Linked DNA regions of Homo sapiens. The protein of the gene in region 1 purifies or fractionates together with the protein of each later gene. This does not show direct contact. Each region holds a gene or a part of one and is shown on either strand. Other genes may lie near its edges. The genes, in order: HK3, SLC2A8 and SCAMP1.

Region 1 (3,723 bases):
GCCAGACACGGGCACCAACGCGTGTTACATGGAGGAGGCACGGCATGTGGCAGTGCTGGACGAAGACCGGGGCCGCGTCTGCGTCAGCGTCGAGTGGGGCTCCTTCAGCGATGATGGGGCGCTGGGACCAGTGCTGACCACCTTCGACCATACCCTGGACCATGAGTCCCTGAATCCTGGTGCTCAGAGGTGACCTGGCAGGGGGCCCTGACCTTTGGTTCCAGGCCCTGTCTATGACTGCTCTGCTCCCAACCCCTTCTGTCCCTGTTCTCAGGCCCTTAGGCCCCTCCCTGTCACTCTGAGGGTCTCCAGGGAGCAACCTGGGGGCCCTGGCCAGGTTCAAAGAAGGAAGGGCCCAAAGTTCTAGAATCCAGAATTGTCAACCCTTGATCTTCCCTGTTCCTGACTCTGGCCTGCCCTGACAGTTTGGGGGTTGAGGGCTGGAAGTGGTTGAGCAAACTGCTCTCTGCCTTCCTTTGGGTCCTTCTTGTTCTCCAGGAGGCTTCTGAATGTAACCTATGTCAGAGGGGGCAGTGGGGTCTGGGCATACACCCACCTGTCCTCTGGGAGGCTATTCGTTGCTTCTGGAGTCTCCAGTTTGGGAGCCCCAAAGAAAAGAATCCTTCTTTGGGAACTCTTGGAGGTAGGGCCAGGTGGACTGAGGGCTTAGAAAAGGCTTCCTCCAGCCACCCTTCCCCCCTGCAGGTTTGAGAAGATGATCGGAGGCCTGTACCTGGGTGAGCTGGTGCGGCTGGTGCTGGCTCACTTGGCCCGGTGTGGGGTCCTCTTTGGTGGCTGCACCTCCCCTGCCCTGCTGAGCCAAGGCAGCATCCTCCTGGAACACGTGGCTGAGATGGAGGAGTGAGTCGGGGAGATGGTGGTTTAGTGGGGGATTCTTGGCTTGGAGGAAGGGGATGATACTCTGTTCCCAAGGTAGCCATGGGGCTTTAGTGGGATGGGGAGCTTCTGGGCTGAGCCCCAAACCACTTCCCTTTCCCCTCCAGCCCCTCTACTGGGGCAGCCCGTGTCCATGCTATCCTGCAGGACTTGGGCCTGAGCCCTGGGGCTTCGGATGTTGAGCTTGTGCAGCACGTCTGTGCGGCCGTGTGCACGCGGGCTGCCCAGCTCTGTGCTGCCGCCCTGGCCGCTGTTCTCTCCTGCCTCCAGCACAGCCGGGAGCAACAAACACTCCAGGTTGCTGTGGCCACCGGAGGCCGAGTGTGTGAGCGGCACCCCAGGTATTGTGGAAACGTGATCCGCATGATTAGTTGGCATGAACACGTGTGTGTGATACACACCCAGAGGGCCCTCTGGGATCACATGTGCAAGCCAGTGGACACGAAGGGCACTTAGGCAGAGGGAGGGCCAGACTGAGCTATGGGAGGCCAGAAGACATCCAAGGAGAGAAACGATGCTTCCCTTTGTGTGTGCAAGGGTGGAGGCCATGGCGACACGGGGGCGTATGGCTGGTGCACAGAACAGATTTCAAATTGAAGTGATAGGGGAGGCTGGCTATGGTGGTACACGCCTGTAATCTCAACACTGGGAGGCTGAGGTGGGAGGATCATTGGAGCCTGGGAGTTTGAGGTTACAGTAAGCCATGATCACTCCGTGGCACTCTAGCTTGGGTGAGAGAGCAAGACTCGATATCTACAAAAATAAAAAAAAAAAAGTGATGGGGCCTTGGGCTTCAGGAGGCCCTAGGGGTCTGGGGCCAAGCTGGGCACACCTGTATGTATCTGGGGGTCCAGGGCCAAGCCGTGCACACCTGTGTGTGTCTGGGGGTCCAGGGCCAAGCCGGGTGCACCTGTATGTATCTGTAGGTTCTGCAGCGTCCTGCAGGGGACAGTGATGCTCCTGGCCCCGGAATGCGATGTCTCCTTAATCCCCTCTGTGGATGGTGGTGGCCGGGGAGTGGCGATGGTGACTGCCGTGGCTGCCCGTCTGGCTGCCCACCGGCGCCTGCTGGAGGAGACCCTGGCCCCATTCCGGTTGAACCATGATCAACTGGCTGCGGTTCAGGCACAGATGCGGAAGGCCATGGCCAAGGGGCTCCGAGGGGAGGCCTCCTCCCTTCGCATGCTGCCCACTTTCGTCCGGGCCACCCCTGACGGCAGCGGTAAGGACCTGGCCTGAGTGTGGGACCGAAACATGGGCTCCTGGGGGTCCCAGTGTGTGCTGGGGCTGGAGCCACAAGCCCTATCCCGGCACTGAGGGTCTCTGCCCCCACAGAGCGAGGGGATTTCCTGGCCCTGGACCTCGGGGGCACGAACTTCCGTGTCCTCCTGGTACGTGTGACCACAGGCGTGCAGATCACCAGCGAGATCTACTCCATTCCCGAGACTGTGGCCCAGGGTTCTGGGCAGCAGGTACCCACAGCCTGAACCTTGATGTCAGAGGTGGGGAAGGGCTGAGCAGTGCCTACGCCTGACCTGTCCTGCCCCACAGCTCTTTGACCACATCGTGGACTGCATCGTGGACTTCCAGCAGAAGCAGGGCCTGAGCGGGCAGAGCCTCCCACTGGGTTTTACCTTCTCCTTCCCATGTAGGCAGCTTGGCCTAGACCAGGTGAGGGAGGGCCAAGAGAAGTGATTCCCAAGGGCCTCCTGCCCCCACATACCCTTCATGGAGTGGGCAGGAGGCAGGGGAAAAGGCTGGGCGGTGGCGGGTCTGGGGTTGGTGGTGGTGGCAGCACTGCTGGGCTGGGCTTGCACACAGCCTCAGTTTCCCCAGACAGGGTAGGCCCAGGGTTAGGGTCTGAACCATTTGGGAGCAGGTCAGGCCTAGACTGGGGCTGATCAGAGGACAGATCGTCCATTTTAGCTATAGCACTGGTGTGTGGGCCTCAGGGTCCTGCAGGAACCAGCATTTGTTCCTGTCTCTAGCAGGGGCTTGAGGTCGCTTGGGGTTTTTTTGGCCTCTCTCCTCCTCCTTTCTTTGTTTCCTTCTCAGTGCCTGGCTCAGTGTTGGGTGCATGACTAGGGTGGCAGAGTGCCAGGCACAGGCTAAGACACACATCCCTACTCAGCACACACTTTAGCTTGTTCTTACACAAGGATGAGGGACTTCTCAATGTGCACACCGGAAGCCTGTCACGGAAACAATACCTCCCGGGCCTCTGGTCCAAACTCCCAGGAATCTCCCTTTCAACATACCCAACTTCTGCTTGAAAGCCTCTTGCCAAGGAGCTCACTGCCCCTGAAGGCAACAGTTGCATTCTTAGACACCTGTGATCAATGAAAAGCTTCATCTCACCTACTCCAACCAGCCTCCATGTGATTTTCACCCCCTGCTCCTGCTCTGACCTCTCTCTGATATGCAACTCATTTTTTTTTTTGAGATGAAGTCTCACTCTGTCGCCCAGGTTGGAGTGCAATGGCATGATCTTGGCTCACTCACTGCAGCCTCCACCTCCTGTGTTCAAGCAATCCTCCTGCCTCAGCCTCCCAAGTAGCTGGGACTACAGGCACATGCCAACACGCCCAGCTCATTTTTAGTAGAGATGGGGTTTCACCATGTTGGCCAGGCTGATCTAGAAATCCTGATCTCAGGTGATCCGCTCACCTCAGCCTCTCAAAGTTCTGGGATTACAGGCGTGAGCCACCGCACTCCACCTGATATGCAACTCTGTACTCTGCTTTCTTTTACACGGTGGTCCTTTGGATGGTGCAGTGGGCCAGTCTTGCTGCTTGGCTGCTCTGCTCCAGGCTAAGCCTGCTCAGT
Region 2 (3,500 bases), on another chromosome or scaffold:
TTTTTTTTTTTTTTTGAGACAGAGTCCCGCTCTGTCGCCCAGGCTGGAGTGCAGTGGTGGCTCTCTGCAACCTCTGCCTCCTGGGTTCAAGCGATTCTCCTGTCTCAGCTTCCCAAGTAGCTGGGACTACAGGCATGTGCCACCACACCTGGCTAATTGTTTGTATTTTTGGTAGAAAGGGGGTTTCACCGTGTTAGCCAGGATGGTCTTGATCTCCTGACCTCATGAACCGCCAAACCTCAGCTTCCCAAAGTGCTGGGATTACAGGTGTGAGCCACCGCGCCCGGCCGATAGGTGTGTCTTATGACTGAGTTCCAGGGACAGCTGGAGAAGGTGATACCCTCAGCTTTCCTGAAGCCCCCTCTAGGGGTGTGGGAAGGGCTGACTGCTTAGGTCAGTACCTTACTGTGCAGTGACAAACCAGAGGGCTCCAGAGGTGGGTGGGTCCCTGTAAAAATCTTCAGCCCGGGCGAGTAAAGGGCTGAGCAAGTCCCCTGAGAATGTCAGTGCCAGATTCACCATGTCGGCGAGTTGCAACGTGAAGGAGGCCGGGGTCCTGGGGACCCCGAGGGGCAAAGCTGGGCCAGCATGAAGAAACTTCAGGAGACAGGTGTGTTCTCATTAGAAAGAGGCCAGGCTTTAGAGGCCAGACCCAGTGGCTCACACCTGTAATCCCAGCACTTTGGGAGGCAGAGGTGGGCGGATCACTTGAGGTCAGGAGTTCGAGATCAGCCTGGCCAACATGGTGAAAACCCATTTCTATTTAAAATACAAAAATTAGCCAGGCGTGGTGGTGGGCACCTGTAATCCCAGCTACCTGGGGGGCTGAGGCACAAGAATTGCTTGAACCCAGAAGGCTGAGGTTTCAGTGAGCTGAGATCGCGCCACTGCACTCCAGTGTGGGCGACACAGTGAGACTCTGTCTCAAAAAGAAAGAAAAAACAAGGGCAGGCTTCAAATCTGACCATCCTGAGTTTGGGGATAGCCTCTCCTACGTGCTGTGTGACCTTGGCCAAGTCATACCACCTCTGAAAGCCTCAGTTTCTCTGTCTTGAAATGGGCATAACCTCATCTAGTCCAGTACCTGTCCATTAAATTAATTGACACATGAAAAGTGCCTAACAGTGGGTTCCAAATGAGAATTGTCAAGGGATGACTTGAGAACCATGGGGATCATCGGGGTAGGAGGCCTCGGGGGCCTGACGGGCTATGGCCTGGCCCAGGGCACAAGCCCTCTGCATCGTCAGGGCGGATGATACACAGGTCTTTGGTGTTTCATTTTTACCCACTTAACCACCCTAACAAATTCAGAATCCTGCCAGCGATCTGGCTACCTTGGGAGACCTGAGTAAACCAAAGCCCCCACTGTGTGCAGGTGTTGACATTCATCATTTCGGGGACAGGTACTGGGTGTCCACCCACCCGTGGCACTATCTTCAGCTCATCTTAATATGTGCTTGTTGCTTCTCCTGCCTTTCCTGATCAATTTCTGTGAGTTTCGATCCACTGGGGTGGGTGAACTCTGATAACTCCACAAAGTGACATGGTGGTGGCACGTTTGCTTCACATTGGGGCAATCATGTTCCAACGACTAGACTTCATAGAACAATTGTCTGCACCCCCAGCACAGAAGAAAAATAGGGACATCATGGCTACCTTAGAGGTATTTTTCCACTGGGAACCAGGGATGGGTAAGCCTTGGGCTTAGGAAAAATTAGTAATTAGAGCAGCAATGCCCTAGACTCATTTATTCCAGGGCCCCTTTGTAAGAGAACCTTTTAACTTTATATAAAACTAGGTAATTCTGCACTTATGCTGTTCTTCATACGTCAAGACAGCAAAATCCTCTCACCTCTCTACTTTCATGTATACTTTGAATAGATAATGCATTCAAATGACTCAACACTCAAGTGCCAGAGTGGAGAGATGTCCAGTGAAAAGCTTCCTCCGCCTCTGTCCCTTTCTTGTCTGGGGGAGTCCCCATTGCCTGTTTCTTGGTAGCCTTCAGAGAGTCTGTTCATATGAGGGACATGCATATTTATCCTCCCTCCCCCACCTCTTCTACAAATGGTGCCACATCATACCATGCGGACACGCAGCAAGCACCTCATCCTTCATTTTTGTGGCTACATAAATGTTTCGTTGAACGGATGCAGCCTAGTAATGTCCGCGTTGTCATACCCACTGTCGCTTCCGCAGCTGGTGTGATTGGCCCGTGCCATGTGCCTTCATGAACAGTTGTGATAATGGCAATGTCAGTAGCGAACATGAGGGCAGATGTGCAGAGGCAGCGAGGCCCCATCTCTGAAGCTGAGTCTTTGAGGCTGGCAAGGCCCAGGCTGGCTCACCCTGGCTCTGACGCCAGCCTCCTCCACCCACCCCCCGCAGGCTGGGTGCTGGAGTGGCGCTGGCTGGCTGTGCTGGGCTGCGTGCCCCCCTCCCTCATGCTGCTTCTCATGTGCTTCATGCCCGAGACCCCGCGCTTCCTGCTGACTCAGCACAGGCGCCAGGAGGCCATGGCCGCCCTGCGGTTCCTGTGGGGCTCCGAGCAGGGCTGGGAAGACCCCCCCATCGGGGCTGAGCAGGTGAGAGGCTGGAAGGCAGAGCTGACAGGAGTGGGACAGCAGTCACGGGAGGGTAGCACAGCCTGTTCCCAAGGCCACACACTTGGGGGGTGGGGGACAGGGAGGTGCCTATCCACCCTCCACCCTCAGCGAGGACAGGCCCAGTGTGTCCTGTCTTTGAGCAGGCCAAGACAGCTGGAGCCCCACGGAGCTGGGCCCTGGCCTCCAAAGTCACCAGCAAAGCCCGAGCTTTGACCCTTACTGTCCCAGGAAGAGAATGGCCAGGCCTGGTGGGGGATACAGAGGCAGAGCTGAGGACTTGGATTTAACAAAGGAGTTGCAAGGCAGGGTAGAGGGCTAAAAGTCTGGGTTTTAGAGTCACCCAGGCATGGGTTTGAAGCCCCCACGCTGCCCCTCACCTAAGCTTTAGCTCTTCACCTGTGATGTGGGAGTCAGCACCTGCTTCACAGTGCTGGGTGGGACTCAGTGGGGGAAAGGAAGGCGGGGCTTAGGGAGGAGGGGGGCTCAGTGGGGAGGGTGGGGTCAGCGAGGAGGATGGGTTCAGTGGGGAGGGGAGGGTCAGGGCTGTAGGAGGTGCTTAGCTAGGGCCAGGCCCAGACCTGAGGCAGGTGCTGGATGTGTTGGTGGTGGCAGGGATGAGGGCAGCAGCTTGCTCTTTGCCCAGATTACCTCTTTGTGGCTCCCCCCCACCTATCAGGAAGTGCCCTGGGCAGGTGAGGGTCATCTCACCTGACACATGGGGAGGCTGGGACTTGTCTGCACACCTGAGGACACAGGGGGTGCTGGGATGAGGAGCCAAGACGTGGGAGTCAGCGCTCCCCAAGCCTTAGGACAGTAGACCCCCAGAGGGGGGCCGCTTGCGGGAGGGGAGAGAGAAATCCTGATGGCCAGTATCCGTCAGAGCAGAGCTTTCAC
Region 3 (3,723 bases), about 98 Mb from region 1:
TTTTTAATCCATTTGGAATTCTTTTGAGATACAGGGATTTTGTTTTTCCTCCCCCAATTTAAATAATTCTCCCAACAGCATTTGCTGACAACCTTTTGTATTTCCATTGACTTGAAATGCTATCTTGATCAGTGCTTTAATTTTCATATGCACCACCATTGTGTATATTGTGTAAATTCCAATTTTGGTATTGTCAGAGTTTGTTTTTCTATCTCATGGTTTTGAAATGATATATGATTGTTTTTGCACTTCTTGATTACTAGTGCTGTTACACCTCTTTTCACATGTTTATTGACCTCTTTCTATTGCTTGTTCAGATCTTTTGCTAGTTTTTCGATTAGTTTGTATTTTCATGGATTTGTAACAATTCTTTATATATTCTGGGTAGCAATTTTCTGTTATATGCATTACAACTATCTTTTCCTAGTCCATGATTTGACTTTTTACTTTTTGTAAATTTCAGTGTAATTAAATTCGTCAATTTTGTGTGGTGTGTGTTTTCCATTCTTAATTTGACAGATACTTACTGAGCATCTACTGTTTCAGGGACTATTTTGGGTACTTGGGATAGGTCATAAACAAAATACACAGTATTTCTAGAGTTCATATTCTAGAAGCTCAAGAAATATTCATAAAAATATTCACATGTATTTTTCCCTGAAAGTGTTTAAGTTTTGCTTTTTCAGTTTTAGATCATGAATTTACCTCGAATTAATCTTTGTATATGATGCGAAGTAAGAAATGTTTTTTTTTCCTATATGAGTAACCAGTTATCCAGGCACCGTTTATTGATTAACACATTGTTTCTTCACTGTTTTGTAGTGACACCTCTGTTAGATATCAAGTTTCTGCATTTGTGTGGGTTTGTTTCTGTGTCTGTTTTGTTTATTGGTACACTTCTCTGTCCTTGCATCTGTATTACACTCTTAATTACTGTGGTTCTATAATAAGCCTTGATATCATAGGTCTTCCTACTTTGTTTTTCTTCAAAATGGTTTGACCTGTTTTTAGTTCCTGCCTTTTTTTTTTTTTTGAGATAGACTCTCACTCTGTAGCCCAAGTTGGAGTGCAGTGGCATAATCTGGGCTCACTGCAACCTCTGCCTCCCAGGCTCAAGCGATTCTCATGCCTCAGCCTCTCCAGTAGCTGGGACTACAGGTGCACACCACCATGCCTGTCTAATTTTTTGTATTTTAGTAGAGACGAGGTTTCACCATGTTGCCCAGGGTGGTCTCGAACTCCTGAGCTCAGGCGATCTGCCCACCTTGGCCTCCCAAAGTGCTGGGATTACAAGTGTGAGCCTCTGCACCCAGCCGGTTCTTGCCTTTTGTATATGCATTTTAGAATCAGCTGAACTACAGTTATATCTTTGGTTATGCGTGGCTTCCTTTTCAGGGCTGCTGTTAGCTGTGTCAGAGTAAAATCCTGCTATATATTGGTGGTGTCTTCTGGTTTTAATAGTTCTTAAGATCCTTGAACGTCCTTGTGCAGCTTCTTTCTTTTTTATATTTTTCTTATTTATGACCTCCCCCTTCCCTCCCTCTTCTCTTTCTTTCCTTTCTTCTTTTCTTTTCTGTTACTGTTTTTGCTTCTATTGTTCTTTTCATGTTCCCATCCTTGTTTTTTGTTTTTTTCTTATGGTCATTCTAAAGAGTACTTTAAAAATATATTTTTATTAAAGTAGTATATGGTGCATGTGTCGAGGGAAGCAAATAATACAGAGGCATATAAAACAACAGGTGCAAGTCCGTCTGATATCAGGTGGCCGAGACTTCCCAGATATTTTATGGGGGCATGTATAAATCTGTGTCTGTTGAAAAAAAGGTCATATACAGACTGTTCTGTAGCTTGCTTTATTTTTTAATTTAATTTTTATTTTATTATTATTATTATTTTTTGAGATGGAGTCTTGCTCTGTCTCCCAGGCTGGAGTGCAGTGGTGCGATCTTAGCTCACTGCAACCTCCGCCTCCCGGGTTCAAGCGATTCTTCTGCCTCAGCCTCCCAAGTAGCTGGGACTGCAGGCGCCCGCCGCCACACCTGGCTAATTTTTGTATTTTTAGGAGAGATGGGGTTTCACCATATTGGCCAGGCTGGTCTCGAACTCCTGACTTTGTGATCCACTTGCCTCGGCCTCCCAAAGTACTGGGATCACAAGCATAGGACACTGCGCCCGGCCAGCTTGCTTTATTTTATTTAGTATTTTAAAAGACATTCTTCTATCGCTAATTTATTCTCATGGCTGCATTGTATGTATATACAGTAATTTAACCAATCCCCCATTGATGGACTTGTAGATGTCTACTTCCTGATCTTGCAGCTTTCAGACACTACTGATCCTCACTGGCAAAGTGGAAGTTGGGTAATTTATTTTCTCTCTCCTTACGCCTTCCCTTTTACTCTTTTAAATTTAGTGGGGTTCTACCAAGAACTTTCCTGTATACTCTTCAGAGCACTGGCATGTAGCTTTCTCAAGAGGGAAGAGTTGGCAGTAAACCTTGGTGTAGTTCTTTTGTCTGGTTCTATCTGTATTTTACTATTAAACTCAAAAGTTCTTTTTTTTTTTTTTTGAGATGGAGTCTTGCTCTGTTGCCCAGGCTGGAGTGCAGTGGTACAGTCTTGGCTCACTGCAGCCTCCACCTCCCCGGTTCAAGTGATTCTCCTGCCTCAGCCTCCCAAGTAGCTGGGATTACAGGTGCCCGCCACCACACCCGGCTAATTTTTGTATTTTTAGTAGAGACGGGGTTTCACCATATTGGCCAGGCTGGTCTTGAACTCCTGACTTAGGTGATCTACACGCCTTGGCCTCCCAAAGTGCTGGGATTACAGGCATGAGCCACCATGCCTGGCCTCTATTAACATACGGTATCCTGGAGGAGAGTGTTTGTCATATAGTGTTATAAGTAGCAGTCTGATTGTAGAGTTGAAAAATGAATGAGTTGGAGAAAATGGAGATGGAGAATTTAAGCAGCTCTTTGCCACACACTTGACTATGAGAGAGCAGGGAATGAAGAGATGCAGATTTTGGGATTTTTCATTTTATTGGTGTTATACTTTTTGAAAGAAGTTAAAGTTGGATCTCTGTGTTACATAATTTTCCTTCTCTTAATCCTCCTAGCCTCCACCAGGCGGTGTGAAGATGCCTAATGTACCCAATACACAACCAGCAATAATGAAACCAACAGAGGAACATCCAGCTTATACACAGATTGCAAAGGTTAGTTCATGTTAGTTGTATAAATTCATATTGGCCATTATAATATCAATAACATTTGCTTTCAGAGCAAAATAAATCTTTATATGGTTACATTTCTGTTGCTTAATTTTTAACTCACTTTCAAGTCTGGATTTGCTGTCTTGTCACCCTTCAAATACTCATTCCTCTTTTTGTCAGCTTATACCATTTGCTTTATTCCATTATTAGGAATTATTGAATTTATGTATCATCTCAGTGGATAAATTTTTATTGCCTTTGGTCCCACTTTTTAATGCACACTACCATTAAGGTAAAAATGATGGAATAATAGATATTATTGGGAGAGCGTTGCAATGGTAAAATAACAGTGTTAGGAGGTAGAAGATGGCAAAAATCTGAGAAGAAAGGAGATTAATAAGATGCCTGATAGCATGTAAGGGCAAATTGAGTTATAAAGAATTTCTTAATCACATCTTTTGACCTCATTCTCCTATAACATTTAAGATATTAGAAAATATTCTTGCATTG

What was found.
Region 2: the proteins of HK3 (region 1) and SLC2A8 fractionate together in Homo sapiens (co-fractionation; one large-scale study listed by BioGRID). This does not show direct contact.
Region 3: the proteins of HK3 (region 1) and SCAMP1 fractionate together in Homo sapiens (co-fractionation; one large-scale study listed by BioGRID). This does not show direct contact.

Annotation. Positions count from the first base shown.
Region 1 is NC_000005.10:176,885,847-176,889,569, reverse strand, and holds part of HK3 (hexokinase-3), read left to right. Parts: intron 1-5; coding exon 6-189; intron 190-705; coding exon 706-861; intron 862-1,004; coding exon 1,005-1,238; intron 1,239-1,823; coding exon 1,824-2,119; intron 2,120-2,232; coding exon 2,233-2,369; intron 2,370-2,448; coding exon 2,449-2,568; intron 2,569-3,672; coding exon of another isoform or gene 3,673-3,723. UniProt on the Homo sapiens protein: Catalyzes the phosphorylation of hexose, such as D-glucose and D-fructose, to hexose 6-phosphate (D-glucose 6-phosphate and D-fructose 6-phosphate, respectively).
Region 2 is NC_000009.12:127,400,169-127,403,668, forward strand, and holds part of SLC2A8 (solute carrier family 2, facilitated glucose transporter member 8), read left to right. Parts: intron 1-2,388; coding exon 2,389-2,585; intron 2,586-3,491; coding exon 3,492-3,500.
Region 3 is NC_000005.10:78,412,403-78,416,125, forward strand, and holds part of SCAMP1 (secretory carrier-associated membrane protein 1), read left to right. Parts: intron 1-3,117; coding exon 3,118-3,216; intron 3,217-3,723. UniProt on the Homo sapiens protein: Functions in post-Golgi recycling pathways. Acts as a recycling carrier to the cell surface.